Linked DNA regions of Homo sapiens: all the other regions are linked to region 4. The links come from fine-mapping of genetic effects on gene expression. A gene starts in region 4. Each other region holds a variant in brackets. All regions are shown on one strand. Distances are from middle to middle.

The links. PIP is the estimated chance that this variant, and not a neighbour inherited with it, causes the effect.
Region 1: its variant is fine-mapped to the expression of ST20-AS1 in neutrophils (BLUEPRINT, PIP 0.95).
Region 2: its variant is fine-mapped to the expression of ST20-AS1 in skeletal muscle (GTEx, PIP 0.97).
Region 3: its variant is fine-mapped to the expression of ST20-AS1 in regulatory T cells (Bossini-Castillo 2019, PIP 0.95).
Region 5: its variant is fine-mapped to the expression of ST20-AS1 in whole blood (TOPMed, PIP above 0.99).

Annotation. Positions count from the first base shown.
Region 1 is chr15:79,446,810-79,453,181 of GRCh38, reverse strand. The region is part of intron 1 of MINAR1 (membrane integral NOTCH2 associated receptor 1); the gene reads right to left. Among named protein-coding and RNA genes, the nearest start is that of MINAR1, 18 kb to the right of the region's middle. The variant G/T (reference allele first, on the strand shown) is at 3,521.
Region 2 is chr15:80,121,794-80,128,165 of GRCh38, reverse strand. It overlaps ZFAND6 (zinc finger AN1-type containing 6), which reads right to left. Exons shown (of 7, transcript NM_019006.4): 4 at 6,346-6,372; 5 at 5,366-5,466. Among named protein-coding and RNA genes, the nearest start is that of FAH, 28 kb to the left of the region's middle. The variant GATGGT/T (reference allele first, on the strand shown) is at 2,802.
Region 3 is chr15:80,000,901-80,007,272 of GRCh38, reverse strand. No RefSeq gene overlaps it. Among named protein-coding and RNA genes, the nearest start is that of BCL2A1, 33 kb to the right of the region's middle. RefSeq lists enhancers at 2,578-3,348, 3,349-4,121, 3,159-4,358, 4,122-4,893, 4,894-5,666. The variant G/A (reference allele first, on the strand shown) is at 2,751.
Region 4 is chr15:79,919,345-79,924,916 of GRCh38, reverse strand. It overlaps ST20-AS1 (ST20 antisense RNA 1), which reads right to left and starts at 2,146. Exons shown (of 1, transcript NR_028330.1): 1 at 63-2,146. It overlaps ST20-MTHFS (ST20-MTHFS readthrough), which reads left to right and starts at 1,825. Exons shown (of 4, transcript NM_001199760.2): 1 at 1,825-1,878. ST20 (suppressor of tumorigenicity 20) reads left to right here and starts at 1,165. Exons shown (of 3, transcript NR_037653.2): 1 at 1,165-1,465. RefSeq lists enhancers at 1-586, 788-837, 1,268-1,447 and silencers at 978-1,127, 1,748-1,797, 1,808-1,877, 1,898-2,007.
Region 5 is chr15:79,895,400-79,901,399 of GRCh38, reverse strand. The region is part of intron 2 of ST20-MTHFS (ST20-MTHFS readthrough); the gene reads left to right. MTHFS (methenyltetrahydrofolate synthetase) reads left to right here and starts at 4,386. Exons shown (of 3, transcript NM_006441.4): 1 at 4,386-4,528. The coding sequence starts at 4,412. It overlaps ST20 (suppressor of tumorigenicity 20), which reads left to right. Exons shown (of 3, transcript NR_037653.2): 3 at 2,275-2,558. RefSeq lists an enhancer at 3,888-3,937 and a silencer at 4,078-4,377. The variant T/C (reference allele first, on the strand shown) is at 2,404.

The sequences.
Region 1 (6,372 bases), 470 kb after region 4:
GCAACAGCTCAGAGAGGGGGGCACGGACATTCCCCAGCTATTCAAGAGAAATGAGGAAAAGGAGGCTAGAGAAACTCCACTCAGAGCATAATGCATCACAGTCTGAAGCCGGATCTGGTCAGAGCAAGGCAGAAATAGCCGCCTGGAATCTCTGGGGGCTGAGCAAACTGCCCTGGGACATATGTGCATGCACATATGTCCCAGGGCAGCTTCACATTCACACAGACTCACCCATACACTCACACGCAGACACATTCACATAGCTTCACTCAGATTCACCCAGACACACCTACACACACTCACACAGCTTCACACTCACACAGACTCACCCATACACTCACATGCAGACACACTGACAGCTTCACACCCACAGAGCTTCACACTTAGACTCACCTAGACACAGACACGCACACAGCTTCACTCACCCACACACCCCCCCCACACACCCACACAGACTCACCCACACCCACACACTCATCCAGACACCCACACACACACACCCAGACTCATACCCACACCCACACTCACCCAGACACACACCCACACACACACAGACTCATCCAGACACCCAGACTAACCCAGACTCACACCTACACAGACTCACCCATACACTCACACACACAGACTCACCCACACACACCCACACACTCACCCAGTCATACCCATACATTCATATAGCTTCACACTCAGACTCAAATCCACACACAGCTTCACACCCAGACTCACACCCACACACACTCACACAGACTCACCCACACACTCATACAGCTTCACACTTGCACAGCTTCAGTCATGCAGACTCAGGGACATACATATACCCAGACACACTCACACAGCTTCAGTCACACTCATCCAGACACACACATCCAGACACTTGCACAGCTTCCCAGCTTCACACTCACACAGACCTAAACACACAGACTCACGCTCATGCACATACACACAACACATTCATACACACTCTCAAGCACACACACATTCACCTACACACACTCACACAGACCTACACTCATACACAGCTGCACACACATACGCTGTCGCACTTCCACACACCCATGTGTACACACAATTCACACAAGTACTCAAGCTCCCACACATCCACAAACACATTCACACCTCTGCACACACACACATTCACAAACACGTATACACCACATACACAGGCTCACTCACAATCTCCACACTCTTTCTCTCCTAGGTGTCTCTTAGCTCTGTTCTCTCCTAAGTGTCTCTTAGCTCTGTCCTCAGGGTTTAAACTTTCTTAACATCCCAGCACATCTCCATGCATATTTTGGGGGCTAAGCAGCCAACAAATCCACCCCTCTCTGGCGTTTGGGAAGCTGACCCCATGATGCCGCACATTGCCTGCCAACAAGACCTGCAAACACAGCCACTGCAGCACCCTGTCACCCCCACCCCCATGTGGAAAAGCTCCGCAAAGACTCTGAGAGGCCAATCACAGGACTTCCATCCCACCTGGCTTCAGAGCTCCTTGCTGAGGAACAGCCATGCCCAGCGCGGCAGGGAAGCTGGCAGGAGGAGGAGCCGGTGAGCAGCAGAGATCCGAAAATCATGAGGCCAGACTGGGGATTGCCTGCAGCACATCAGGCCCCCATCGGGCCCAACTGACTGCCCAAGCCAACACCGTAGCCCAGGCCTCCCCTCCCCTGTGTCTCCCGCAGACCCGTCTGCTTGGAGGCCTGCTGCCTCGGCTGCCCACATCCTCCCGCAGTCCTGCTCACCCACGCCGGCTCCTGGAACAGCCCTTCTGCCCCAGTCCCTCGCCAGGTCCCAGAGTCTCCTCTGTTCCCTCCGTGGTGCTCAACAGCCCTCCGCCTGTGCCTTGGCTAAAGCGCTTATCACGCAGGAGTTTTCAACCAGGTAAGATTCACCTGGGATGGTTTTAAAACATTGAGACCTGGCCTCCCCTACCCTAGACCAGTTAAATCAGAATTCCTAGGAGGGGTCCAGGTCTTTAGGAGTTTTAAAAGCCACCCCAAATTTCTGAACCATGGGCCTCCAGATTTTGGGACCAAGAAGCCCCATTTAATAAGTCGGAGGGATGAGGTTTGTGAAAGGCATTGAAGCCTAATGGTAGAGAGGAGCGACAGGGGCCCACAGACCTGGGCTCAGACTCCAGTCCTGCCCACTATGTGACGTTGGATAGGTTACTTACAGCTCCCACACCCTGCCTCAGTTTTTTCATCTGTAACAATGGGTTTAATTAACAAGCATATGTAAAGCACTTAATAATAAAGAGCTTCCCATGTGACAGGCATTCAACAAATAACAGCTGTCACTCATGGAACAGCTGTAGCAATGGGAATTCTAGCAGTCTCAGTGGCTTCATGCCTCACAGCACCCTCTGCAGGTTATAAAAAAGGAGTATTTTTGAAAAATGACTCTATTCTGTACAAAGAGCAAGAGACGCCTGCCTAAAGCGGGATTCTGGCCTCTCAAGTTTTACATTTTCAACTTATTTAAAGACTTTTAGTTTCTCATTATAAAAAGCTTCATCCTCAACCACATGCTCCCATGGACCTTCAGTAGACTAATGATTTACTGCCTCTCTCTAGGCTGCACATGACCTCAGAGGGGAATAACAAATTGGCTGTGGGGTTCATTATTCAGCTTTTTTTTTTTTTTAATAGGAAGACAGTTCAGAAAACTGATTCCATGAAAAGTTCTGAAAGCCAGAGGTTGAAATTGCTCACTCAGAATTAATGGGGGTGCTCTCGTCGCCCGCCAATCCAAACTACAGCACACCCTCCTCACTATGTGACTCTTACTTTGTGCGTCTGCCTTATGTGTCCTTGAAGATTCTGTAGGTGTCCAGCCCCCACTAAAACTTGTTTCTGAGCACCCAGAAGGTGCATGAGACTGGGCTAGGCACAGCTGAGAAAGGTAAAGGGAAGAAAACACTCTTTAGAGCGGGCTGGATGGGACCACAGTGAACTCCAGCCTAACCCTTCATTTTATGGTCAAGAAAACTGGGGTCCAGAGAGTAACATGACTTTTCAAAGGCACATGTAGAGCTAGTGGCAGAACTGTCCCCAACACCCAGGGTTCCTGACCCCTAGGCTGTTTTCATAAATGTCTGCAAGAATGCCAGTTCTGACTGTCAAGTGCCAGAGGAGCATAAACATGGAGCTGGGAACCCGATTAAGGGGGAGATGAATTCCAGCCATGGGGAAAAGGTAAAGCTGGCTTCACAGAGAAGGTGCCATCTGCAGTGGCCGCAAAGACTAAAGAGGAGGGGAGTGTTTGATGGTCTGGAGAAAAGGGACAGGGTAGGTACTCTAGGCAGAGGGCAGAAGGCATGACGGTACAGGGCAGCAGAGAAGAGTCTGTATGTCTGGTAGGGATGGAGAGAAGGAGGTGGAGCTGGACAAACAATTTAGATAGGGAGTGCTATGGTTTGATTGTGTCCCTTCAAGATTCAGGTGTTGCCAGTGTGATAGTTTTAAGAAGTAGGACCTTTAAGACCCCTTCCCAGGAATTCTGATTTAACTGGTCTAGG[G/T]TAGGGGAGGCCAGGTCTCAATAGGTTTTAAAAACCATCCCAGGTGATTGTGATTAGGCCATAAGGGCTCCTCCCTAATGAATGGGTTTCATGCCCTTATAAAATGAGGCTTTGTGCAGCATTCTGCTAGCTTGCCCTTTTGCCCTTTTGTTATGTGAAGATGCAGCAAAAATGCCCCCACCAGATACATCAGAAACTGGCACCTTGATCTTGGACTTCCCGGCCTCCAGAGCTATGAGAAGTAAATTTCTGTTCCTTATAAATTACCTAGTCTCATGTATTCTGTTATAGCAACACAAACATACTAAGATAGGGCGTACACTAAACTCTGGGCTGGGAGTCTGAACTCAATTCTGTAGTAAATGAGAGCTGGGAACTGACAAAGTGGGTGTTAGAGCAGAGCAAGCCTGAGGTTAAGATGAGCACTGCAACCTACAGGATACGCTGATGGGGATCCATATTGTCTTAGCCCCTTTCAAAACCTCCTACCCGTATACAGCGAAGGGAAGAACTCCAGGCTCCTCTAATTCCTAACCCATAGGTATTTCCACTAGGTAATAGTCTGTAGTTTGGGAAAGGCCAGAACCAGATGCCTGATTTTTTTTCCCATTACCCTGTGGCACCTTGTTCATTTCTCATGCCACATTCTGGGCATGATAAATGTTGTTGCTGTCCAGTCTACAGAGCTAAAATGAATACCCACCCTTTCACAATCTTACGCATATTCAACTGCTCACACTCTTGGCATCTAATGTTAATCAAAGCAGAGCAAAAAGAGAGAGAGATGATTTAGGGATATAGTTTGTAGTATTGCTGCTTGAATCTTTGGACAAAAGACAAGCTCTCTGAATTTCATTTCCAACAACTCCATTAGAAATCTAATCTTCCCTTCTGCTACCAACAGCCCCAAAATGAATGACATATACCTTGAACTGGATTAGCAAAACTCAGTTATAAAGTATTCTTATCAAACCTTTCCAATACGCCAAAATATATTGATCTTTCAAAAACTGAAATAAAGTGCAGAGATATAACAGCCACAATGTTCTCATTTCACGCTCACGAAAGCACACTGCAAGAGAATTCATCTGCAGTATTCATGTAATTCCTGCGTCGGTGTTGGCCTGCTTGTTTTGAATTTTGTCTTGCTTCTGGTTTTAGGATGGTGGTTGCTACTGTGATTTGGTGAAACTATAAAAGGAAGCTATCAATTTAGGAATATAAAATTTGTGATTAAGAATTTCTACATTGTTTGTGTCACCTCTAATAAAATTTCAAACTTAAGGGGGAACACTTTCTCTCCCAGAGATAGCCATCTTCCACAAAAAAATTGCTAAAGAGGGCAGCAAGGAGTTGGGAAGGGGTTACACTTCTGTTTCTCAAGACGTATACCTGCAGAGCTCAACCCTAGTGCAAAGCCCTTGGTTAAGAAGTCAAGTGATTATGAAGCAATTTCCAGATCTGGCAAGAAAGTAAGCTTAGAGAATGTGAAAAACTCTGATTATGAACACCTCAAAATGCTGGATAAGATGCAAATTTTTTTCTTAACGGGCATAACTAAACTTGCGAGAGCAAGCTAAATGCCCAGATTCCAGAAATAGAGAAGAGATTGAAAAATCACAGAGGTAGACAGGAGAGCTGGCACTGTGGCTGCCCTAAGAGTAAAGGGGATGGTCCTTCTAAGGTAGATTAGGATAGGCCTTCCATGAGATGGAGAGTAGAAACACAGATGTCTGCATAAAGCTGGGACCCTTGAAGGACTATTCTCTAGCTTTATGTGAAAGGATGAAAAAAATCTGGTGCACAGTAAACAAGGACACTTGTCAGCCTCTGCCTGGGCTCTGGGTTAAATAAAGTAAAAAATTACCCCTTAGAAATGGAAAACAAGGCCAATGTCTTAAATATTTTGGGGCCCAAATTTATGTTGTCACGGTGTGCAAGAACTCTTGAGCTAAGAAATTAATGTAAAAAATCAGTTCCATGCTGCTAATGTCCATGGCTGCAAGCAGAAACAAGAGCAAAAGTACTCAAGACAATCAAAGGTGCATAGGAGCACCACAGAGAAAAGAATCCACCTTAAGGTTGAATTATATTTTTAAAAATTACAACACACAAGAGAAAATACTACTCAATGAGTAAGAATCAGCAGACACAAAATCACCAGCAGGATTAGAACTTCAAGAACCTAAAATAAATGAATCCACAATCTTAAAGAAGATACAAATATACTTAAAATAAGTAAAGGCATAAAATTAATAGAAAATCCAAATAAAAGAAGACACTATGAAAAAAGTACATACAGATCTGGAAAAGAAGTATACTAATAGAAAAAGAATCATTAAAATACAAAACACAGTGGCATTAAATAGCATATTAGATCTAAATAAAGAGAAAGTCTATGAACTGGAAGATAGGTCTAAGGGAATTTAGCTGAATGCAGCACAAAGAGATACAAAGATAAAAGACATGAAACTGGCCGGGGGCAGTGGCTCACACCTGTAATCCCAGAGCTTTGGGAGGCTGAGGTGGGTGGATCATTTGAGGTCAGGAGTTCAAGACCAGCCTGGCCAACATGGTGAAACCCTGTCTCTACTAAAAATACAAAAAGTTAGCTGGGCATGGTGGCATGCACCTGTAATCCCAGCTACTCGGGAGGCTGAGGCATGAGAAGCTTTTGGACCCAGGAGGCAAAGGTTGTAGTGAGTTGAGACTGCATCACAGCACTCTAGCCTGAGTGACAGAGTGAGACTCTGTCTCAAAAAACAAAACAGCAACAATGACAACAACAAAAACCATTAAATCAAGCTTAAGAGACATGAGCATAGAAGGATAAGTTTCAGCAAATATCTATT
Region 2 (6,372 bases), 200 kb before region 4:
TTTCTGGCAACCACTAATCTTTCTGTATGACTAGCCTGTTTTAGACATTCTATATAAATAAAATCATACAACATGTAGCCTTTTGTACCTAACTTCTTTTATTCAGCATATTTTCAAGGATCACTCATACTGTGGCATGTATCAGAATTTCCTTCCTCTTTGTGACTGAATATTCTACTGTACGGATATACCACATTTTTTTTTATCCAATGATCTATTTACAGCCATCTCAGTAGTTTCTATTTTTTATTATAGATAATACTGCTACGAACACTTGTGTACACGTTTTTGTGTGGACGTATGTTTTCAATTCTCCTGGCAATCAGGAGAAAAATGCTGGGTCATATGACAATTCTTTTTAATTTTTTGTGGAGCTAGGAGATTGTTTTCCAGAGTATCTGGCACCATATTACACTCCCACCAAGGCAGGAGGGCTCCAATTTTTCTACATCCTTGACAATACTTTGTTATTGATTAGAGCCATCCTAGTGGATACGAAGTGGTGTCCCATGACTTCCATTTCCCTCATATCTAATGAAGTTGAGCATGGTTTTTTTTTTTTTTTTTTTTTTTTTTGAGATGGAGTTTTGCCCTTTTGCCCAGGCTGGAGTGCAGTGGCACAATCTCAGCTCACTGCAACCTCCACCTCCCAAGTTCAAGCAATTCTCCTCTGCCTCAGCCTCACGAGTATCTGAGACTACAGGCGCATGACATCACAGCCAGCTAAGTTTCATATTTTTAGTAGAGATGGGGTTTCACCATGTTGGCCAAGCTGGTCTCCAACTCCTGACTTAAGGTGATCCGCCCGCCTCAGCCTCCCAAAGTGCTGGGATTACAGATGTGAACCACCGCACCCGGCCCTGTTGAGCATCTTTTCATGTGTTTATTGGAAACTTGTATATCTTTTCTGGAGAAATGTCCACTCAAATCCTTTGCTTATTTTTAAAATGGGTTTTCTATTGTTGAATTGTAATTATTTATATATCCTTATCACATATATGATTTCAAAGTATTTTTTCTCTCATTCTGTAGGCTGGTTTTCCACTCTTTTATTTTTTGAGAGAGGGTCTCATTCTGTGACCCAGGCTGAAGTGCAGTGGTGCGTTAATGGCTCACTGCAGCCTCAACATCCCAAGTTCAAGTGATCCTCCCACCTCAGCCTCCCTACCCAGTAGCTGGGACTACAAGCGTGCGCCACCACACTCGGCTATTTTTTGTACAGATGGGGTTTTGCCATGTTGCCCAGGCTGGTTTCAAACTCTTGAGCTCAAGTGATCTGCCCACCTTGGCCTCCCAAAGTGCTGGGATTACAGGCATAAGTCACTGCACCTGGCTGTTTTTCCACTCTTTTAAGCAAAAATCTTTATTTTGATGTAGCTCAATTTATCTATAATTTCTTTGGCTGCTTGTGGTTAAGGTGTCATATCTAAGAAACCACTGCCTAAACCAAGATCACAAAAATGTATACCTGCTTTAAGAGTTTTATAGTTCTCTTATATTCGTTTTAGGTCTTTGATGTATTTCGGGTGAATTTTTGCATATGGTATGACATAGGAGTCCAATTCATTCTTTCGAATGTGGATATGAAGTTGTTCCTGCATCATTTGTTTAAAAGATTACTCTTTTCCCATCAAATGATTTTGGCACCATTGTTGAAAGTCAATGGCCCATAAATATAATAAGAGTTTATTTCTGGACTCTCAATTTTTTATTCCACTTACCTTCATGACTATCCTCATGCCGGTACAACACAGTCTTGATTACTGTAGCTTGTACTCAATTTTGAAGCCAGGAATTGTTAGTCCTCCAACTTTGTTATTTTTCAAGATACCTTTGGCTATTCTCACTCATTCTTTAGAATCAGAAGAAATGCCTGATTTTTAAAACCCATACAGCTTTCCTAAATCAGTCCAAAGAGACTGTCCCCCTCTGATTTTTCTGAACCAATGATTTGACAATTCAACTTTGTATAAAGTCAGAAACCCTCAGAGTAGGAAAGAGCCTGAGAATTCTAGTTCATCCTGTCACTAAGCACAGCATTCCTCTCTCTATATGGTCTCTAACATCAACTCATCTTTCCTAGAATGCTTCAGTGATGTAGACCTTACCATCTTAACATATGACATCATTCGAGTGTTGGAAAGCTTCAAAATTCTCTCTTACTCTAGGCCTCCTACAACTCCCAAATCACTTGGGCAATATAAAGAATATCTTCTGCAGCTTACAAAGCTCATCCAACCTCCATTATCTCAGTATCTTTTAATACCCTGTAAGAGGGACATTCTTATTCTCTTTTAAGAGTAATGAAAGTAAGGCTCAGTGAAGTTAAGCAGGCATACCAAGATAGGAAAATAGAACTTATGAATCCAAATTCAGTATTTTTCTACTATGACCCAAGATCTGAGGGACTAAGAGGTTGACCAAATTTAAGCATATTCTTCAACAGTTTTAGAGTGTACCAAAATGCTTAAAGTAGTTCTTTTAAAAGCTAGCATTTGTGAACTGGAAATTTGACTTATACTCCTGAGTGACACTATGTAAGTAAGGTACTGCTATATTTTTAAATCAAAAAGAACAACTAAGAAACATGCTTCAATATGCTAAATTCTCAATGAAACATAAAAATTCTTCAGAGCCATGTGGCCAATATGAAAGCAGTACCACCAACCTGGTGGCAGCATATCCTAATTATAAGCAGAATACATGTAGAGAAAAAGTTGTTCTGAATGTTCCAATTACAAAATGTTACAAACTTCTGGCTTAGACATATAGCTGCTACTCATATACCTTCTTCCATTTGG[GATGGT/T]TTTCCTATCTATATAAATTTCCCTTGAGGGAAGCATATGGAGTGAGGAAGAAGAAAACTGATACCTGGGTAGTTTGCTAAACGAGTTGATCCTACCCTGAGAACTGAGGGAGATGTATGTGTTAACAGGAATACACATATCCACATCCTAGTCCAACAAGCTCCACAACTGTCTAATCATAAGAATACTGGCCTCTATGAGTTAGGTCCCTGGATTCCAGTTCCAGCTTTTATGACCATATGACTGACTCAAAGAGACTTTTTCTGTCTCTTTTCATCCATCTATTAAATAAATGGAAAAAAAGTTATTTGAATTTGATCAATAGGGAAATCGTAATTGCATGTAAGTGTATGAGTGTGTGCACATACAGAATATACACGTACATATATACAAACATACATGTTTATATTTGTGTATGTTTATAATAAAAAGGGTATTCTTAATTCAATAATATGTTAAATTTTTTTTAAAAACTAGGTTGTTAAGAGATTTTACATACTGGAACCTAACCCTCCTCTCTTAAAACTGAGATGAAACTTATACCTAATTTATCAAAGATTTGCTGCTGATATTACGAATGCTAAGTTTTTTAAAGGTACTTACAAGTTAATACTGGTTTAACCTAAAAGTCATTCAAATCATGTATGAAAAATGGGGCCTATACAATTTCTCCTAATATGGCATCAGGACCACCTTTTGAAGTGATATACTCAGGGCTAAGTGGAGAAAACGGTATTGTTTTCCATACACCACAAATGGAAATAAAAACACTTTTATAAATAAATGGTATAAAAACACTTCCTATGTGTTATGATAGTTCACCAATCTATGACCTTTATTCTTTGTCAAACTTCTGTAAATACTATTGTATTCTTAAGCTTTATACATTTTTTTCACTGCCAACATTCTAAATTTTTTTTTTTTTTGAGACGGAGTCTCGCTCTGTTGCCCAGGCTGGAGTGCAGTGGCGCCATCTCGGCTCACCGCAAGCTCCGCCTCCCAGGTTCATGCCATTCTCCTGCCTCAGCCTCCCCAGTAGCTAGGACTACAGATGCCCGCCACCACGCCCAGCTAATTTTTTGTATTTTTAGTAGAGACAGGGTTTCACCGTGTTAGCCAGGATGGTCTCGATCTCCTGACCTCGTGATCCACCCGCTTCAGCCTCCCAAAGTGCTGGGATTACAGGCGTGAGCCACCGCGCCCAGTCTTTTCCTTATTTCTTTAAAGATTCCTCATTTCTGCCCTTCCTTAAATTTTTTGATGTAACTAAGAAATAAGAATTATTCACTTAAAACATTTAAGAATTTATCACAATATGCTAGATGGGACTAGAATATTTACGTTGACCACACAGAATATTCTTTTGTTACGGCAAAATCTACACAAACAAGCAAACTGGTTCAAGTATTTGCTGGGTATGAAAAAAAAGCAAGAGGAACTACCTAGCTTATTTAAATTTGTTTATTTAATTCTTGAGACCGGGTGTGGGGGAATTGCTCTGGTGCCCACCCAGGCTGGAGTGCAGTGGCACGATCATAGCTCACCGCAGCCTGAATTCCTGGGCTCAAGCAATCCTCCCACGTCAGCTTCCTGAGTAGTTGTGACTACAGGTATGTGCCGCCTCACCTGGCTAATTTTTTGTTGTCCAGGCTAGTCTCAAACTCCCAGACTCAAGCGATCCTCCTGCCTTAGCCTCTCAAGTAGGTAGGGATTATAGGCACAAGCCACAGTGCCTGGCCTAAATTAAAAATTTAGCCATCTTAAACTAGGATTGGCAGATGTATCTGTTACCATCATGTGAACACCATGTGCAATGAAGTTTCACTGGTAAATCATCTCACAGGCAGAATGACACACTGCTCTTCATTAGGCTTATCTTTCCAGAGATCCTTCCTTGTTACCATGTTATTTCCACACACTGCTAGAATACAACTAATTAAGCAGAGATTATTTAATAGCCTCCAAAATGGCCTACTCCGCATTCTCTCTCCCTACTACGAAAGCCTTCATACAAATTTTCAAGTCTTCCTAGATCACTTTGAGCTTCATAATGGGGATATGAAGAGCATGGGCAAGACACGATAGATACCATGCTGTGAATACGAGCAACTGAATGTGACTATTGCACACATGGGGAAGAAAAAAGGAGAACTGCCAGGCACGATGGACACAGTCTCTCAGATAATGAGTCAAAACACAAAAGAAAGAGATGCCCCTCAAACCAGCAGCCCCAGTTTTCTTACAGAGTAGTATATAGACTGAAACGGCCAAAATAGTAAAAGAGAACAGTGTAACACTGCCACACATTCATTTAATTATATTTTCCAAACTAAACAAATTTTGAATTTGCAACATTTATGCTGATGATAAAATTACATGTAAGTGTGAAATGGCTCCCCAACATGTTAATTAAATACTTAAAGATATAAAGTATTGTGTTCATAGGGAAAACAGAAAAACATGTATTTTAAGCTGGCAATTTTTTTATACATGCACCTAGGATAGTGTCTGGCCTATAATACTCAAATAACAAAATACATGCTAGTTCATATACAAACCCTGCACATCTTCTGTTTCAGGTACTGCTTTGTCCACAGATGTACTGTCCAATTGAGAAGATGCTACAGATTCTGATAAAAGTGACTGATTTGATACAGGGCTAGAAAAGCAAAATATTTCATTTTAAAAGGTGATCTCTACACATGAATATTAACTAATGTGACACAGTAAGAGTTCAACATATCTAAGTAGATAATTAAGATGAGAACACAGACATACTTTTTTTTAATAACTTAAACATAATCATAGAGCTTTAAAACTAGAGACTAATTTGGACCAGAATTTTACTGCCTTGGAAACAAAGCAACAGTGTATATGTCCTTTGTGTATTTCAAGTACCACATGAATTCACTAAATGAAAACTAGCATGATAAAGACATGCTTAAAGAACCCTAAGACAAAGCTGTAAATGATATTCTGGCATAGCAAAACTGAACATATCTTATCATGAACTGGAAAAAAGGAACCCCAGTGTAGGAACTTAATATATTGGTTCCTAAAAGCAGAATAAAAATGAAACCAGTATTGCTGTATGCAGGCTTCTAAATGATGTGACTTCAGAGTTAAAAAATATATATATACACATTACAATATAAACAAATATGAGTACTACATCATGATATTAAACAAAGATAATGTGTGACAAGACTGTATTTTTTTAATACACGGTAGTAATACTTGCAGAATAAGACTAACATTTCACTTAACATGCTTCCAAAGGACTTCAGGAGTAGGTCAGGATATATTATGAGAAAGAAAAAGATGCCTGAAAAAGAAATCTAAGACTTAAACGATAACCCCCGATCCCTCAAGGTAAAAGCAAGAAATCGCTTTTTCTAACTAGTTATAATCAGACGATAAAATTTTAGGCCAGTTAATCTAAAAGTAGCTTTACGTAGTTTTCCTTATTAATCAAACACAGAATATACTCTTTAGTTTTTATTAGCATTCTCATTAGAATTCAGAGAGTACATCTTACCTGGGCTGCATAGATGAAGATGTAGAG
Region 3 (6,372 bases), 82 kb before region 4:
ATGCGGCTGAAGTCTGTTGTTTAGCTTATGTAACTATCACATTTTTGCTTTTATTGAATCATGATAAAGACTGGAAGCAGAGACAAATTCTGAATATTATCTTTTGCCCTGCAAGAAATGGCAGGAGTCTTTATCAGTAAGAGCACACAAGAATGGGAAGTTCGGAGCTGGCACTCGCTGGAGACCCAGGCTGAGTACACTGGTTCTAAGAAGGCTAGGGGCCAGATGGGTTTTCAGGACAGAGACTCAGGTCTCTGTGACACAGGGACGAGCAGCCAGACTGCCTTGTTGCTGAAGCCCCTCAAAGCTTCTGGAGCTCCCTAATTCTCCCAGTCTTGAAGCTTGGGACATGGGAGTTACAGAGTCTGTAGAAGAGAGTCAGAGAACCACAGGCACAGGAAAGGAGGCCAGCAGGGAGCCCAACAGGTGCTGCTGTGCTCCAGGACAAATGGTCAACACAATAGGACTTCCCACTTACTGCCCAGTACTCGTCCTCATTAGCTCACCTTCTAGCTAATTTGAATGATGTTTGTTTATATTAGTGTTCTTACTCACTGATGAAGGTGAGAGGACGTTTTCCAAGATATTCAGCCAATTCAAGAATTTTGCTGTGAAGAATTGAGATGCCAGGATGGGCCAGGCGCCGTGGCTCACGCCTGTAATCCCATCATTTTGGGAGACTGAGGCAAGTGGATCACCTGAGGTCAGGAGATTGAGACCAGCCTGGACAACATGGTGAAACCCCGACTCTACTAAAAGTACAAAATTAGCCAGGTGTGTTGGTACGTGCTTGTAGTCCCAGTTACTCGGGAGGCTGGGGCAGGAGAACTGCTTGAATCCAGGAGGCAGAGGTTGCAGTGAGCCGAGATCACACCACTGCACTCCAGCCTGGGCTATAGAGCGAGACTCCATCTCAAAAAAAAAGAGAAAGAAAGAAAAAAAAGAGATGCAAGGGTGTGGAGTGTAAGGAGGAATTGAGGAAACAACCCACCTGGACTGCCACAGGCCTTTGGCACCCAGTGTTAAGACTTTACTGCCCCTTTCAACACCATAATCAACAAAGCCTGCCTGTGAAAAATCTCAGGAGACAGTCTGATCTTTTTGTATTTTGAAGCAGCTGAGGCCTGCTCCACCTGTGAGATCACCTTATTCCACTAATGACCTTAATTGCTGAATCCTTTAAAATGCCAGTGTTGGCCCAGCCCCAGTAATGGTGATGGATGGAAGCCCGGAGCCAGTCAGTCTGCAATGTTTCAGCAACCTCACAGGCACAGAGTGCTCCGAGGCTGCTGGAGGGTATGCCAAAGAAGACGAAGAATTACTAGTGGCTCCTCTTCCAGAGCCCTCTAATCTGGGTAGGGAAGAAGCCTTACAGGGACTTGAGTCTGATGCTGGGAGGAGGCCTGATGCATATTATCATTCAGCAGTGCCTCCAGGATAAAGTCCCACATCCTTCCTCTCTCTCTCTCTCTCTCTCTCTCTCTCTCTCTATTATATAATATATATATAGAATAACACATATAATATATTATATATAACCTATGTTATATATTATATAATATATAAAATATATTATATATTATATAAAATACCTTATATATACACATATATACTATACTATATAATATACTATATGTTATATACCATATATTGTACTATATGTTATATACCATATATTATACTATATGGTATATACCATATATTATACTATATGGTATATACCATATATTATACACTATATAATATACCATATATTATACACTATATAATATACCATATATTATATTATATACTATATAATATACCATGTATTATATACTATATAATATACCATGTATTATATACTATATAATATACCATGTATTATATACTATATAATATACCATGTATTATATACTATATAATATACCATGTATTATATACTATATAATATACCATGTATTATATACTATATAATATATAATATAATATATAATATATTATATACTATATAATATATAATATAATATATAATATATTATATACTATATAATATATAATATAATATATAATATATTATATACTATATAATATATAATATAATATATAATATATTATATACTATATACTATAAAATATATAATATATTATATACTATAAAATGTATATTATATACTATAAAATATATAATATATTATATACTATATAAAATATATAATATATTATATACTATATAATATATAAAATATATAATATATTATATACTATATAATATATAAAATATATAACATATTATATACTATATAATATATAAAATATATAATATATTATATACTATATAATATATTTGTTATATATAAAATATATTATATAGTATATAATAATGTTATATATAAAATATATAATATATAGTATATAAAATATATGCACATATATAATATATATTATATATTATATAATATAATATATATTATATATTATATAATATAATATATATTATATATTATATAATATATAATATTTTATATATATATTATATATATATATATTATATATATATAATTATAAATATAATATATAAAATTATATATAATATATAATATATAATATATAATATATAAATATAGAAATATATTATATAATATATTATATATTATATAATATATAAATATATAATTATATATAATATATTTTATAATATATATAATTATATATAATAATATATACTATATTATATAATTATATATAATAATATATACTATATTATATAC[G/A]TATTAAAAAAAGAAACTTTAAAATTAACGGAATATATAATATACTATATATACATATATAGTATATACATATATAAATAAAAAATATATATTTTTAAACATTCAAATTACAGAAAAAACAACATATAAGGAGATACTATCTTCTCCATGAGGTGAAGTTTTGTGCAATTAGAAAAGAATTTCTCTTCCTCCAGCAGACCCAGCACATGCCAGGGTGAATACCTTTGCCCTCTTGGCTGGTACCTGGATGCAGGGCACAAATTTCAGTCATGTGTGGTGGTTCTATTCACAGTCCTTCATAGCCTGGCCTTGAATTGTCCTGGTTTTGTCTCCCACTGCACGCTTCCTTGTTGTGGGACCTTCAGACAGCCTTCCATACTTCCGCCAATCCACTAGCTTGGTACGCCCCAGGCCCTGTATCTCCCTCGTGCTCTCTGCCCTGTCTATAAAAACCTTCCTTCCCTTCTCTATCTGGTCAAGTCCTACATGTTACTGATTTTTACCTGTAATTTTTTTTGTTTTGAAATGGAGTTTCGCTCTTGTTGCCCAGACTGGAGTACAGTGGCGGGATCTTGGCTCACTGCAACCACCACCTCCCAGGTTCAAGCAATTCTTCTGCCTCAGCCTCCCGAGTAGCTGGGATTATAGGCACTTGCCACCGTGCCCGGCTAATTTTTTGTGTTTTTAGTAAAGACGGGGTTTCATCGTGTTGGTCAGGCTGGTCTCAAACTCCTGACCCCAGGTGAGCCACCCGCCTCAGCCTCCCAAAGTGCTAGGATTACAGGCCTGAGCCACTGCGCCCGGCCTTCCCTGTTAATTTTAAAGTTTCTTTTTTTTTTTTAATATTGCAAAATGTAACACTTACTTGGAGAAGTGTTATCAAACATAAACTCACAGTTCCATAAACTGTAATTCACACTCATCGTGAAATAGAACATTCCCAGTACTCCAGCATCACCTCCTCCACTTCAACTCCCCGTTCTCCCAAAGGCCTTGTTCTATCTGCAATTGTCTCCCTCTATCATTCTGACTGCCAGAGATGGTGAATTCGTCTTCAAAGGGTTTAATTGTGTAATGTCCTTGTCCTTGGTTCGGAGCCTCACCTCCTTGTACTTTCTTGTTTCTAGCCTGTGAGCAGCCCTCCCGCTCTTGTTGTGCCCGGACTTGCCCAGACATGTCCGAACACGCCTTGTGCTGTAGCAGAGGGACCACTCCTATCCCCCACCCTCCCTTGCGAATCGCACGTTTACCCTAATTGGAAAAGTATGTCTTTTTTTGTTTTTTTTTTTTGAGATGGAATCTCGCTCTGTCGCCAGGCTGGAGTGCAGTGGTGCAGTCTCAGCTCACTGCAGCCTCCGTCTCCAGGGGTTCAAGCAATTCTCCTGCCTCAGACTCCCGAGTATCTGGGACCACAGGCGCGGGCCACCACGCCCGGCTAATTTTTTTGTATTTTTAGTAGAGACGGGGTTTCACCATGTTGGCCAGGATGGTCTTGATCTCCTGACCTCGTGATCCGCCCACCTGGGCTTCCCAAAGTGCTGGGATTACAGGCGTGAGCCACCATGCCCGGCTGAAAAGTTTAAGTCTTAGCCAACTGGGGTTAGCTTAGGTTGTGCAGTCCAACCCTAGCCAATAGGGGAAGGACACAGGAATAGGGACTATGTTAGGGATAAAAACTCCTCTCCTTTGTTAGTTGTGCTCGCAGCGGCCAGAAGCATGAGCGGCAGCCTTCTGTAGAAGTAAACTTGCTTTGCTGAGAAACCTATTGTTTGAGTGCTTGTTTTTCCTGCGACTCCGAGCTCTTATTTCCAACACTGACTTTTAAGGAAACCACTTTCCTGTCTTTTTTTTTTTTTTTTTTTTTTTTAAGAGACATGATCTCACCATGTTGCCCAGGGTGGACTCAAACTCCTGGACTCAAGCAGTTCTCCTGCCTCAGCCTCCTAAGTAGCTGGGATGACAGGCATGCGCCACCATATTCAGCTCCTGCTTTTTTTTTTCTTTTGAAAATTTGGATTATTTCTAGTTTTTGATGTTTCTGAGTAATGCTGCTATCAGCATTTTTTTTGCATGTCTCCTGCACTATACATGCATGTATTTCTGCTAGGTACAAACCTGAGATGGAATTTCTGATCTTAGAGTGTGCATATCACCAACTTTAATAAATACAGCAAAGTAGTGATTGTACCAATTTACACTTCAGCCGTATACGAGAGAAGCAGCTACTCTATATCTGTCCCAACACTTGGTAACATGGTCTTTTAAATTTTAGTCATTTTGGTGGGTGTAAATAGTTTTGCTTGTTTGTTTGAGATAGAGTTTTGCTCTCCTGCCCAGGCTGGAGTGCAGTGGCGTGATCTCGGTTCACTGCAACCTCTGTCTCCTGGGTTCAAGCAATTCTCCTGCCTCACCCTCCCAAGTAGCTGGGATTACAGGTGCCCACTACCACGACGGGGTTTCATCATGTTGGCCAGGCTGGTCTCGAACTCCCGACCTCAAATGATCCACCTGCCTGGGCCTTCCAAACTGCTGAGATTACAGGCGTAAGCCACCGTGCCCAGCCCGTAAATGGTTTTTATTTGTATTTCCCTGTTGATTATTGAGATTGAGCACGTTTTCATATATTTATTGGCCATTTAGTATCCTCTATTGCAAAGTGCTTATTCATGTCTTTTACTCATTTATTTACTGTGTGCTCTGTATTTTTCTTTCCTTATTCTGTAGGTATACACACACATACACAAACATGTACATAGAGTCAGCTCTTTATATAATATGGATATAATGCTTTGTCTGTTACAAGTATTGCAAATACCCCCACCACTCAGAGGCTTGTCATTCTCTTAACGTCATCTTTTGATAAAGGGAAGTTTTTAATTGTTAACATGGTGAAATCTATCAGTCCTTTCCTTACTATTAGTGCTTTAATGTCCTTTTTTTTTTTTTTTTTTTTTTTTTTTTTGAGACGGAGTCTTGCTTTGTCGCCCAGGCTCGAGTGCAGTGGCAGAATCTCGGCTCACTGCAAGCTCCGTCTCCTAGGTTCACACCATTCTCCTGCCTCAGCCTCCTGAGTAGTTGGGACTACAGGTGCCAGCCACCATGGCCGGCTAATTTTTTTGTATTTTTAGTAGAGACGGGGTTTCACCATGTTAGCCAGGATGGTCTCGATCTCCTGACCTCGTGATCCACCCACCTTGGCCTCCCAAACTTTTGGGATTACAGGTGTGAGTCACTGCGCCGGGCCTTAATTTCCTATTTAAGAAATATTCGTCATGAATATGTTCTTTTATAGTATCTAGTAGAAGCTTTTAAAAATATTTAAAATAGAAATATAACATGCAGAAAGTGCATACGTTGTATGAAGCTTGAGTATGCAACTCAGTAGATTTTTACGTACATCTATACCCAGAGAACCTCTATTCAGAGCAAGTTGGATATTTACAGCAAACCATAAGGTTTCCCAATCAATTACAACTCCATCCTTAAGGCCATCACTATTCTAACTTCTGTTCATCTTTTCTCCTTGTTGTTGGATATTTGGGTTGTTTCAGTTTGGGGGTATTACAAATAAATTGCTGTGAACATTCTTGTATGTGTCTTTTGATGCACATAGCACAGATTC
Region 4 (5,572 bases):
CTAGTACACATCGTAAAGGCAGATTTTCACACTCATACAATTTTCTGCATTCTTCAGTATCTGTCAGCGTGTTCAAATACTTTTAATACACAACTTTTAATACACAAGACACACTTTGGAAAACTTTTTCCGAAGAAAATGATCCAAAGAGCAGAATGTGAGTCAATAAACGGAGAAAGGCAAGCAGCGGTTTTCCATCTTCTGCGCCAGTGTGCTGTAAACTTTTAAGTCCGGAAAACTATGTTTTAACCGATGAGATAATGCCTTTCAAAGTGATTAGCACGACCGGGCGCGCGGTGGCTGACGCCAGTAATCCCAGCACTTTTGAGTGGCTGAGGTGAGCGGATCACCCTGAGGTCAGGGTCGAGACCAGCCTGGCCAAAATGGCGAAACCCCGTCTCTACTAAAATACAAAAATCAGCGAGGCGTGGTGGCGCCCGCCTGTAATCCCAGTTACTCGGGAGGCTGAGGCAGGAGAATCGCTTTAAACCGGGAGGCGGAGGTTGCAGAGCCAAGATCGGGCCATTGCACTCCAGCCTCGGTGACAAAATATAATAATAATAAAATTAAAAAGGGCTTAGCATAGTATCTGGCCAGTAAGAAGAAATTATGATTATTATTTTGACCTTAGACCTCTCTTAACTGTCTGAAATTCGGGTTTCTTAAAGGACACAGGCGGTCTCTGAGGCTCCCGCCAGCGGAAACAATCTCCCATTAAAATAGGCATCGGTTAAATATTTGCTGAACAAAGTAAACTACGTCTCCCCGAATCCCATTGAGCGCCTACTCGAGATCCGGACCGGAGCCGGGCAGGACGGGCCCGTCGGTCCCACACGCCGTATAAGTGGGTGGAGAATACCCCACACGCCCAGACCAATAGGCGGGGTGAACGAGGACCGTGTTCACCAACTCAGCCCGGCTCGCGGAATGCCTTCTGTTCGCCTCCGGGCTTGCAGTGGCTTTCCGTCGCAGGTCAGGCCGCGTTCCACTTCCGCCGGCAGTCCAGACACGCCCCTCCGGGTCCAATCCCCGCCCCTCACACACCTGGCCCCGCCCCGTCGGGAGCTCGGCGGTCCTCTCTGCGCTAGGTCTTCTTAGCGCCCGACGGGGCCACGCCCATCCCCGACGCTCTGAGGTCACCTACAGGGCCGACCCTCGGTGGGCGGAGGGACGGAGGGAAGATGGCTGCAGAGACCGGATATTGGCGCTGCCTCCCCGAATCCCGGACCTGCGCTGAGGAGGCGGTTCATCTGTGGCCAGCGGTGCTTCGGGACCCGCGCTGGGGGAACCCTGGCGACGGGGCCTGGCCCTGCTATATGCGGGGGCCTCGGCTGGAGTGAGCGGCGTGGACGCCTCTTTCCTCCGGCTCTTCCCTTGTTGCTGCGAGAGCGAGAGGGCCGCGGGCGGCGGAGGCAGCGGGGCCGGGATGGAGGACGTTAACTCTAACGTGAACGCGGACCAGGAGGTGCGGAAGCTGCAGGTGCCGGTGAAGAAGCTGGGGAAGCAGCACGAACAGCCGAGGAGCCGCTCGCGCTGTGCTGGGCCCCGGCTCCATCGCGGTTCGCCGGCTCCTCCACTCCCTCCTACGGCGCGGGGTCCCCTCGGGGCTTCCCCTTGGGTCTCAGCGCAAAGTCGGGCGGCGGGGCCGGATGGACCCGAGGCGGACGAATAACGAGGAGCTGCGAGACGCCACCTTCTTGCTGGCGGCGGGGGAGGGCGGCTTGCTAGACGACCTGGAGCGTCTGTCAGGCTAGGAGGAGGGGGAGGAGAGCTGGTGAGCGCCGGGCGCCGGGCGGGGCTGGGCGGGGACGCCCCGGTGGCGGAGGACGTCCCGGAGGATCCCTCTGGTCGGGCGCCTGGCTTTGTGTAGCCAGCCAGGTCCGCTCTCGGCGGGTACTCGTGGTCTTGCTCTGGCAGAGGGGAGGTCAGTTGGAGTTGGGGGTTCGAGGCTTGCAAGTACAGGGCTTGTAGCTCCTTCTCTGGATTGTGGACCCTCTGGGTGCTGGGCCCTATTGGGGTTGGTGGGTTGGTTGGATCCAGAAGGGCTGTTCGCCGTGGGGAGGAGTCGGAGGTGGGAAACTGCTTTGTAGGCAGGGATTCTGCTTTGTATAGGAGACCAGCTTTCGGATGCTGGTCTGGGCATTTTGGATGTTGGGGAGGGGTTTGGCTTGATGAGGTATCACCAAGTTCGGGGGGTGCAGACCAAAGTCGCCGACGTCTATGCAGCGGTTGGTGTTTGGGATCAATTTCTAGCGTGGATGGGGAGACCATGTGGATCAGCACTCCCCTTTAGGTAGTGGGGTAAAGCTTGCTCTGTGTGAAGAGGTCAGAGGATGGTGGTGTTTTGTGTGAAGAATCAAGGGTGAAACAAGAGCCCTGGCTCTGATATTTTAAAACAAGAATTGAGTCTGGCATTTTGCAGAGCTCTGAATTGACATTTATCACATCTATCCTTCATTTCCATGTCCTCCTATGGGCAGAAAAGAGTCCTATTTTAATACCTAAACCAAAGCTGTATTGTCATAAGCCACTTCTTGATGAAATTGTGACACACACCTTAATATCACTTTCATAAATAGGAAATGGGAGGCTTTTCTCCTCATTTTATTATAAAGATGTCTGTGGGAAATTCTCTTAATTCATCCTCTTTAAAATTTTACCTTTTAGCTAAAATGTCTCTGTTGAAATTCAAATTTCTAACTTAGTGAAATCGAAATCATTCATAGACTGTAGTATTGCAGGGCTCGAACTGTGCAGTGTTCTGAGGTAGTTAAGAGCTTTGCTGGATTCAGGCCCTGGGTTTGCCCAGGCCTGTATGACCTTGAGCAAGTTATTCTGAGCTTCACTTTCTTCCTCTATGATGGAGAAAATAATGATAGCACTTACCTCTATAGAGTTATGAAAATTTAGTAAGATAATCCATGTATGCATTTAGCACTGTTGAGATCTTGGCTTACTGCAAGCTCCGCCTCCTGGGTTCACACCGTTCTCCTGCCTCAGCCTCCCGAGTAGTTGGGACTACAGGCACTGGCCACCACTCCCTGCTAATTTTTTGTTTTCGTATTTTTAGAAGAGACGGGTTTCACCGTGTTAGCCAGGATGGCCTCGATCTGACCTCGTGATCCTCCCGCCTCGGCCTTCCAAAGAGCTGGGATTACAGGCATGAGCCACCATGCCCAGCCTATTACTCTTAAGCCTAGTTATTTAAATCAAACATTTAGTGAGCTCTTACATGATGTTATAGGAGACTCTGAAGATTCTCAACTGTTGATTCCTGTTCATAAGGCAGTTATAGTCTTGTTGAGAACTAAGTTTTATGCAGATAAATAAACTAGAAAGTGTATGGTGAATTGCCGAAAGAGAGAACAAAAGTACTGTCAGTGCGCAGTAACTGGGAAGAAAACAGTAGTCCAAAGTAGAGGGGCCAAACTTTGAGGAGGAGGCTTTGGAGTCTGGAAGTGAGGAAAGAGTGGGAAGGGCATTTTATGCTCTGACAGCTACAAGAGCAGAGTCAGAGATATTTGTAACTCCCAGTTAGGAGATTTGAATAACAGAAGTACTCTTGAGTATATGGTGACAAACCTTTATTTTTTATTTACTATTTTTTTTTTTTTTTGAGACGGAGTCTCGCTCTGTTGCCCTGGCTGGAGTGCAGTGGCATGATCTCAGCTCACTGCAACCTCCGCCTCCCAGGTTCAAGCAATTCTTCTGCCCCAGCCTCCCAAGTAGCTGGGACTGCAGGTGCCCACCCCCATGCCCAGCTAATTTTTGTGTTTTTAGTAGAGATGGAGTTTCACCATACTGGCCAGGCTGGTCTCGAACTCCAGACCTCGTGATCTGCCCGCCTTGGCCTCCCAAAGTGCTGCGTGAGCCACCGCACCCAGCCGACAAACCTTTATTACCAGGTGATATCAAATATTATTAGAGCTGACTGTGGTAGTGACAGTTTTTCATATAAATGAAATTGCATCCTCCCAAAGGAATCCTGAGTATGTATGCACTTTAAAAGAACCCAGAATCATCTAAATATTGTCACATGGCTCTTGCAAGTGATGATAATAGTGATGCTTATAATAATGAGGATTAGCTGCACTCATCAGCCTGTAGAAAGTAAAAAGTTTCCTTTTCGAAATTTCCTTTCTTGTTAAAGAATAAATCATAAGTGTTAGAAATAATAGTTTCTTTTAAAGACTAACTTCCTTCAAGCCTCCTCTGCTCTGTGCTAATGACTCTTCATTAAGCCCTATCCTATGTAGCTGTTAGATATAAGGGAATAAGTATATTCTATGTCCTTGTACTTTAACCAAGATATTTGTGCTGGACATGCTCACAGGCACGTTCCAGCTTGCAGCCTATGCCCCTTCCTTATTTGGAAATATTATTACTTTTCTAAGTCTTTTTGCAAGCAACTTCTTCTTTTCCTTTGTTCTCTATTGCCTTTCCCTATATAGGAAAGTTTTAAGTTATTAGCCAGTCGGGTTTAATTTAAATTGTGAGGTCCAGCTCCAGCCAATGGAGACAGGACACAAGCTGCATAAGGGATAAAAACTGCTTCCCTCCTTTGTTCGGGTGTGCTGTCACCATTGTTTCATCTGTGAGGAGCACCCTTTCTGCAGAAAGTAAAATTGCCTTGCTGAAAAAACTTTTTGTCTAAATGCTGGTTTTTCCTTGCAGTACCTAGGAGCAAGCATTCTGTTTCTAAATAAACATTTTACTTGTAACAATGGCGGTGGCCTGTACAGGGAGCCATTCTCCTCCGGGGGTGGGGGGGTGGGTCTCTGGTCCTCTCTCATGAGGAAGGCGCCCCACTGCCTTGTTGTAGCGGCCTCAGGGTAAGGAATCGAGACCCACCAGTTATGACAAATAAACTGGACTCTCAGCAATGTGGAAAGAAACCGGCTGGTGACCTGGAGTAAAAGATCCTCACATACCACCTGGACCAGGCAACTCTGCACAGACCAAGAAAGGAAATGCCAGGGGAGACAGTAAAATACTTCCTTGGTGGTCAGGACTAAGGAAAAAGAAGCCACAGGGCAGTGAAGCATTCTTTGGTTGGGACATACCAAGGTAAAGCATTCCTTAGGACTAAGGAAAGAAAAGCCGCGGGGAGGGGGGGCGGGGGTGGTGAAGTATTCCTTAGTCGAGGTGTCTTGGAGGTTAAAAAGAGGTGAAAAATCCCCATTAGGGGGAGATTGAACCTCACAGAAACTTCCGGTCATAGGAAAAATGTTCAAAACTTCCCTTTCCCCTATTCTTGGGGGAAGAAAGAGGCAAGGGAAAGAGCAGCAGAGAAGAAAGAGAAACTAGGAAAGGAAGTCAGAGAAAGCAAGAGCAGCGAACGTGGCTCCACATTGTTGTGGATTGCTGGCACCTGGCAGAGCGGCAGTGGCTGAGACACTCTCCTCACTCCCGGCCGAGCCAGCCAGAGCCAGCCAGAGCCACCCAGGCTGCTGGCCCCCGAGCCCCGCACCTTCCGTGCTGCTCGGGTGCATCCTGCCACCCTCAGAGGCTAGCTGGCCACGGACACCTGCAAGTTGGAGCCGAGTGGGAGACAATGAGCGCACCGGAGCCA
Region 5 (6,000 bases), 24 kb after region 4:
CCCCCTTTTATTTATTTATTTATTTTTTGAGACAGAGTCTCACTCTGTCATCCAGGCTGTAGTGCAGTGGCTTGATCTTGGCTCACTGCAACCTTCACCTCCCAGGTTCAAGCAATTCTCCTGCCTCAGCCTCCTCAGTAGCTGGGATTACAGGCATGTACCACCACACCCAGCTAATTTTTGAATTTTTAGTAGAGACAGAGTTTCACCACATTGGCCAGGCTGGTCTCGAACTCCTGACCTCAAGTGATCTCCCCACCTCAGCCTCCCAAAGTGCTGGGTTTATAGTTCTGAGCCACTTCGCCCAGCCTGGTTTTCCCCTTTTAGATATAATGGTTCAGTAGTGAAGCATAGGTATGCTTTTCTGGTGCCCCCTACCTTCCAATATTTTAGAAGACTGCCTCATGATAAATTTCTAACAGTGGAGTAACTGGTTCATAAGATGTGTGTATAATTACGATATTCTAGCATACTGGAAAACATATTTTCTTTTCGAAAGTATTATATCAATAGAACAATATCATAGCAACCTTATCAGTGTGGGTGGTACTATTAATAATTTTGAGGGTTTAATAGGCATCAAATAAAGCCACTTTAATAGGTCTAAAAAAAATAAGACTTTGTTAAAATGTACATTTCTTTAACTGCTATTAATGTTTTTCTCATATACTTGTGAATGATTTATATTTCTCTGTTTAATGGTCTCTCCTTTTTAAACTATTAAGGGCCTGAGAATTTTCTCTCACATTTGAATGAACACTTTCATGGTATATGTAAATATTTTCCTAGTTTATTGTTCTTTTTAGTTTTTCATAGTTAAAAAAATTTTTAATCTTCATCTGGCTGAATTTATCAATATTTTCTTTGTTCACTGTCCTTTCTTTAGACGTTGATGTATATGACATGTTAACTGATCAATGATAATAGACAATGATTATCGTTATAATAAAAGTCATTTCAGAGGGTCTCATCATACTTGCGAAATATGGTGTTTAGGAAGGGGCGTAATGAAGTGGATACCTCCCTAGAGTGTAATCTATGAGTATGTACTGGCAGAAGGGAAAGAGGAAGAAGAGGGGCAGTTTCCTTCCTCTGTCAAGGCATGACAGCATGTCTCAGAGCACGACGCACACTTACGTAGGCAGAAAATGGCTTTCTAAGTCTTTCAAATGAAATCCCCCTGGCTGGTGGTATTCATCTGCTTTGCCAGTGATGTTCATAAAATGATTCCAAGGCACCGCAGAGCTCTCGAATCTCTCCCAACTATCAAAGGGTTATGCTTGGTTTACGTTTCAATATTAGTTACACTTTGCTCTGAGCTACTTGCAGGCATTTGTAACCCCAGGTTCTGGAACCTGTAAGATGCAGCCACAAATGTTTGCTAGATGAACATTCGAAAAAATTATTTTAACAATTTTCGAATATTTTGGCACTTGTTTGGAAATGTATGGAGTGGAAAGAAGTAGGGTATTTGCATTCTAATCCAGGTCCAGGCACCAAGGGTTTGGCTAATCTTAGATAACTGATTTTTTTTGTGGGCCTCACTTTCCTCATTTGTTAAGAGAGAGCATTAGGCTAGATGATCTCAGAGGGACTTTTCAGTGAGGATTCTATGATTATAGATTGTAAATTAAATAAAATGTCCAGTTAATTGGGTTATCCTACATTTTTAAAACTATGTCCGATCACAAAGAGAGTAGATTATAAAAGAAACCATCAACCTTTTCATAGCTTCAAAGGTATTGGTTTAATTTGGATTTACTGTGAGTTCTCATGAGTTTCAATACAATGCAGTTTACAGTATAATAGAATTCATATTACAAATATAAGTGCATTGAAATCAATGTTGGACAATTAAACAAGAACAAGAACAAAAAGACTTTTTATCCTCTAGAGCTGTGCTTGCTGTTCACTATGGTAGTAAAATGTGGCTAGTCTGAATTAAGATACGCTGTAAGTACTAAATACTCATGAGATTTTGAAGGTTTGTTATGAAAAAAACTATCTCATTAGTGATTTGACATTGATTACATACAGAAATCATTATCACTAAATATATCTTAAAAATTAATTTTTCCTATTTTTGTACTTTTTAAAATGTGGCTACCAAAAATTAAAATTACAGATGTAGGCCACACTGTGTTTCTGTTACACAATGCTCCTTTAGAGGGATAGAAGATTATTTGCATTATTTAAATGAAAATATTTTTGCTTTTTATTCCAGCATACTTAATCTCCAATGATTTTTAAAATGTTAAATTTATTCTCTCATAGGAAAATGGCTTTGTAAAGAAGCTTGAGCCTAAATCTGGCTGGATGACTTTTCTAGAAGTTACAGGAAAGATCTGTGAAATGCTCTTCTGTCCTGAAGCAATACTGTTGACCAGAAAGGACACTCCATAT[T/C]GTGAAACCGGCCTAATTTTTCTGACTCTTACGAAAACGATTGCCAACACATACTTCTACTTTTAAATAAACAACTTTGATGATGTAACTTGACCTTCCAGAGTTACAGAAATTTTGTCCCTATTTAATGAATAAATTGTATGTATTTTTCTCTATATGCCATTTTTGTCTTCAGTTTTGGAGTCTGGCTGGAAATTCAGCCAAAGGGTAAAAGCTCAACACAGGATCCAGGCAATTAATTATGGGATGATGACCAGGAAGGCGGTGTCTTTTCTGCCCCAGGCAGACTTTTAAGGTGTGCCATTACCCCAAAAGTCCTTTTCTGTGTCACTAGGCTAGACTGCAGACTAGACTGAGAAGCGGACTCAGGCTAGAAGCAGACTCAGGTCGGCTTCCCTCTTCCCTCCTTCCTTCCCATGCTTTCTGCAGTTTCCAGTGCCCCTGGCTGCTTAAGAGTTTCCATTGATGCCTCCTCCCCAGCCTTCTCTCTCTGGCTTGCCATTTGGGGTTGATGGATATGGCAACCTGATATGCAGGATACTCTGGGATATTCTGAACAAAGAAAATTGGTAAATGATTCAACGTGGAGCTAGTGTTAATTTTAATTTTTATTTTTTGGTAAAAATGAACAGATTAGAAAAGTACGTAGTTTGTTAGACCTCGTGTTCTAACTTTTAGGTCAGCAAATCTAATTGCACTATGTATACGCTGTACCTGCCTGGCCTTCCCTTTTTCTTACAACACAGTCCCCCTGGGACTTGCATTAGCTTTCCCTGGAAGCTGTTGATAGATTCCATAAAGAAGCCAGAACTCCCCTCTCAAGCCATGTGCATTCTCACCGGGCACTTAATTAATGCTTTACCTAGGAGGTGTGATTCTTAACGGTGGGGATTAAGACACTGGGGCGGTCAGTAGGGACGTATTTTTGGCAGAGACAGCTCTGGTTTTCTTAGGAAGTCACATCTGAGAGGCAACCGTCTATGCCATCTGAGGCGCCTGTCTACTGGGAGCAGTTTAAGACTTAACAGTTTCTTTTACCTCTTCCTGCAAGTGCCTCACCCACCCCCCAACTGCTTTTAGTTTTAATTCATTTTTGTGTTTTAATCAGAGCTGAGTGGTGGGAATGAACAGTCACTGATGGTTATAACAGGAAGTACCTATGTGGGCACTATTACCTGGAATACATTCACACTAGAAACCCGCAAAATTTGGCTTTTACACTACAGTTATTGCTTTAGCAGTGTTCCCGATTATGTATCATCTATACATTCATCACATAAGGACATTTCCATCAACCACTGTGGTCCCTTAAGATTATAATGGAGCTGAAAAATTCCTAATACCTACTGATGTGGTAGCCAACCAACACATTACCTTTTCTGTGTTTAGATACACAAGTATCACGGTGCTTACAATTGCCTACAGTATTCGGTACAAAATACGCTGTACAGGTGTGTAGCATAGGTGTGTAGTAACTTTGTGTAACTACACTCTGATGTTTGCACAAGAAGGAAATCGGGGCATCTGTCAGACCTATCCCTGTAGTTAAGCGACTCGTGACGATTTCGCTACATGTCCTGCCTTGCCCTTCTTTTCTGGCCCCTGAAGTCCCACTACTGAACAGTACAAGAGATGCCAGGCACCGTGGGTACTGCCGGCCATCTTTACCATCCCCGCCAGTGGCGCTGCCGCCTCCGCGGTCCCGGTGAGGGCCCAGGCTCAGGGAGGTCAGGCGGCAGGGCAGCGACGGCGCCTCGCCACCGCTCCCCTAACCGGGGAGGGCGAGCCGGACCACGGGGACCGCACGAGGGCTGGGTCCCAAGGGCCAGAGGCGAGGTAAGCGCGCGGCGCGCCGCGGGCCCGCGTCCCGGAAGCGGGGTGGGGGCGCTTCCCCGAGCCCCGACCCGCCCCTAGGCCGCGGATCCACCTGGGAGCGGCCAGGGGCGGAGACCGAACCCGAGGGCGCCCAGGGCGCCGAGGGCGGGACTGGACTCGGCTTGGGCGTGAGATGGCGGCGGCAGCGGTGAGCAGCGCCAAGCGGAGCCTGCGGGGAGAGCTGAAGCAGCGTCTGCGGGCGATGAGTGCCGAGGAGCGGCTACGCCAGTCCCGCGTACTGAGCCAGAAGGTGCGAGGCCGCCCGTAGCGGAAGCCGCGGCGGACAGACCCTCCGAAGGCCTGGCGGCCAGCGATTGCTGATCTGTGCATGGTCCGTGCTGGCGCTGGGCTAGGCGCCCCCCCACCCCCCGGCGCGCGCACGTTTCCCCTCCCGGCGCGCGCACGCCCCCTAGTCGTGGTCTGGACGCTCTTGGCACTATGGCGGGGAGAGGGCCCGGTAGTGAAAGTTGTGGGGCTAAAGAGCGAGAGGACGGCAGGGGTTGACAGATTTATCTCTGGGAGGGGAGTTTGTTTGCATGGGTGGCTCTTTTGGTGCTCGAAAACCCTCCGTGGGGATGACGGTGCTGTGGTGAGAGCACGGTGAGAACAGAAAGTTGTGGTAGAGGAGATGGGTGAACACCTGAGTGCCCAGGTTCCCTCAGTGAGGCCTAAAGTTAATGAGCTACGAGTAAGACTCCGGTTATATTAGTAAAATGGCCAGAGAAAGATGCAGGTGCTTTAGACGAGGGAACACCAAAAAAGGTGTGGAGATGCCAAAGGGCAGAACTCAGAGGTTGACTGGACTTCACTAAGCATATGGAGGGCTAAGGCTGTGTCTCAGTAGCTCCAGGGCCTAGGCTTTTCCTGTCTCAGAGTTGGTCAACATTAAATGCTTTTTCTTGAGTGAACGAAAGGAAGACTTGGCTATCATATCCAGGCTTCCCAAGAACGTAGGAAACAGAAGAGAGAAATGAGAGGAATAAGTGAGGGTCCGTGTTTGTTGGTTAGCAGACCTCTGTTTCATTACTTTCACCAACTGCACTGCTATGTATTTTTAGTCTATGTAATGTCAGTTTTCTTATCAATAAAATGGCAGTCATATCCTGTTGTGAAGGCATGTTCTAAAGAGTTTTTGGGGACTCATTTTTGTTAGACACCAGAGGAAGAAAAATTTAATGTCCCCTGAATAAGTACGTATTTGTAATTCTGTTGTAAGTCAAACTGATGATCTGTCTTCCCAGCATCATGCTTCAGAGACACCAGATATTTGGAAACTTGATGTTCCTTGGAATTAGTTATACCATCAGGCTTTCTTAATTACCCTTCACTATTCTATTATCCGTTATTTACTCAAATTCAAGGTGCCTATGGGTTAAAGCAGTAAAGCATATATGCTCATTTCACCCCTCTCTTCATCTATGTAGGTGTGTATGAGGGAATCTATACAGATGTTAATTCGTTCGTTCAAACAGAATTATTTTAGCTATTATGAGGAAGCATTGCTGGGTGTTTTAGTAGATGTAAAGGATATAGACTCTTGTCCTTACTATCTAGTTGTTTAAAATTTAGCTAATTCATTCACATATGTTGAACACCTATGTAGTGCACACTTGGCTATATACTGGGTTGTGGAGATGAAAAAGATATGATTGTTGCTCTAAAGGAGCAGAGAGCCTAGAAGAGGAAACAGACATGAATAAAGAATTGCATTGAAGCCAGATA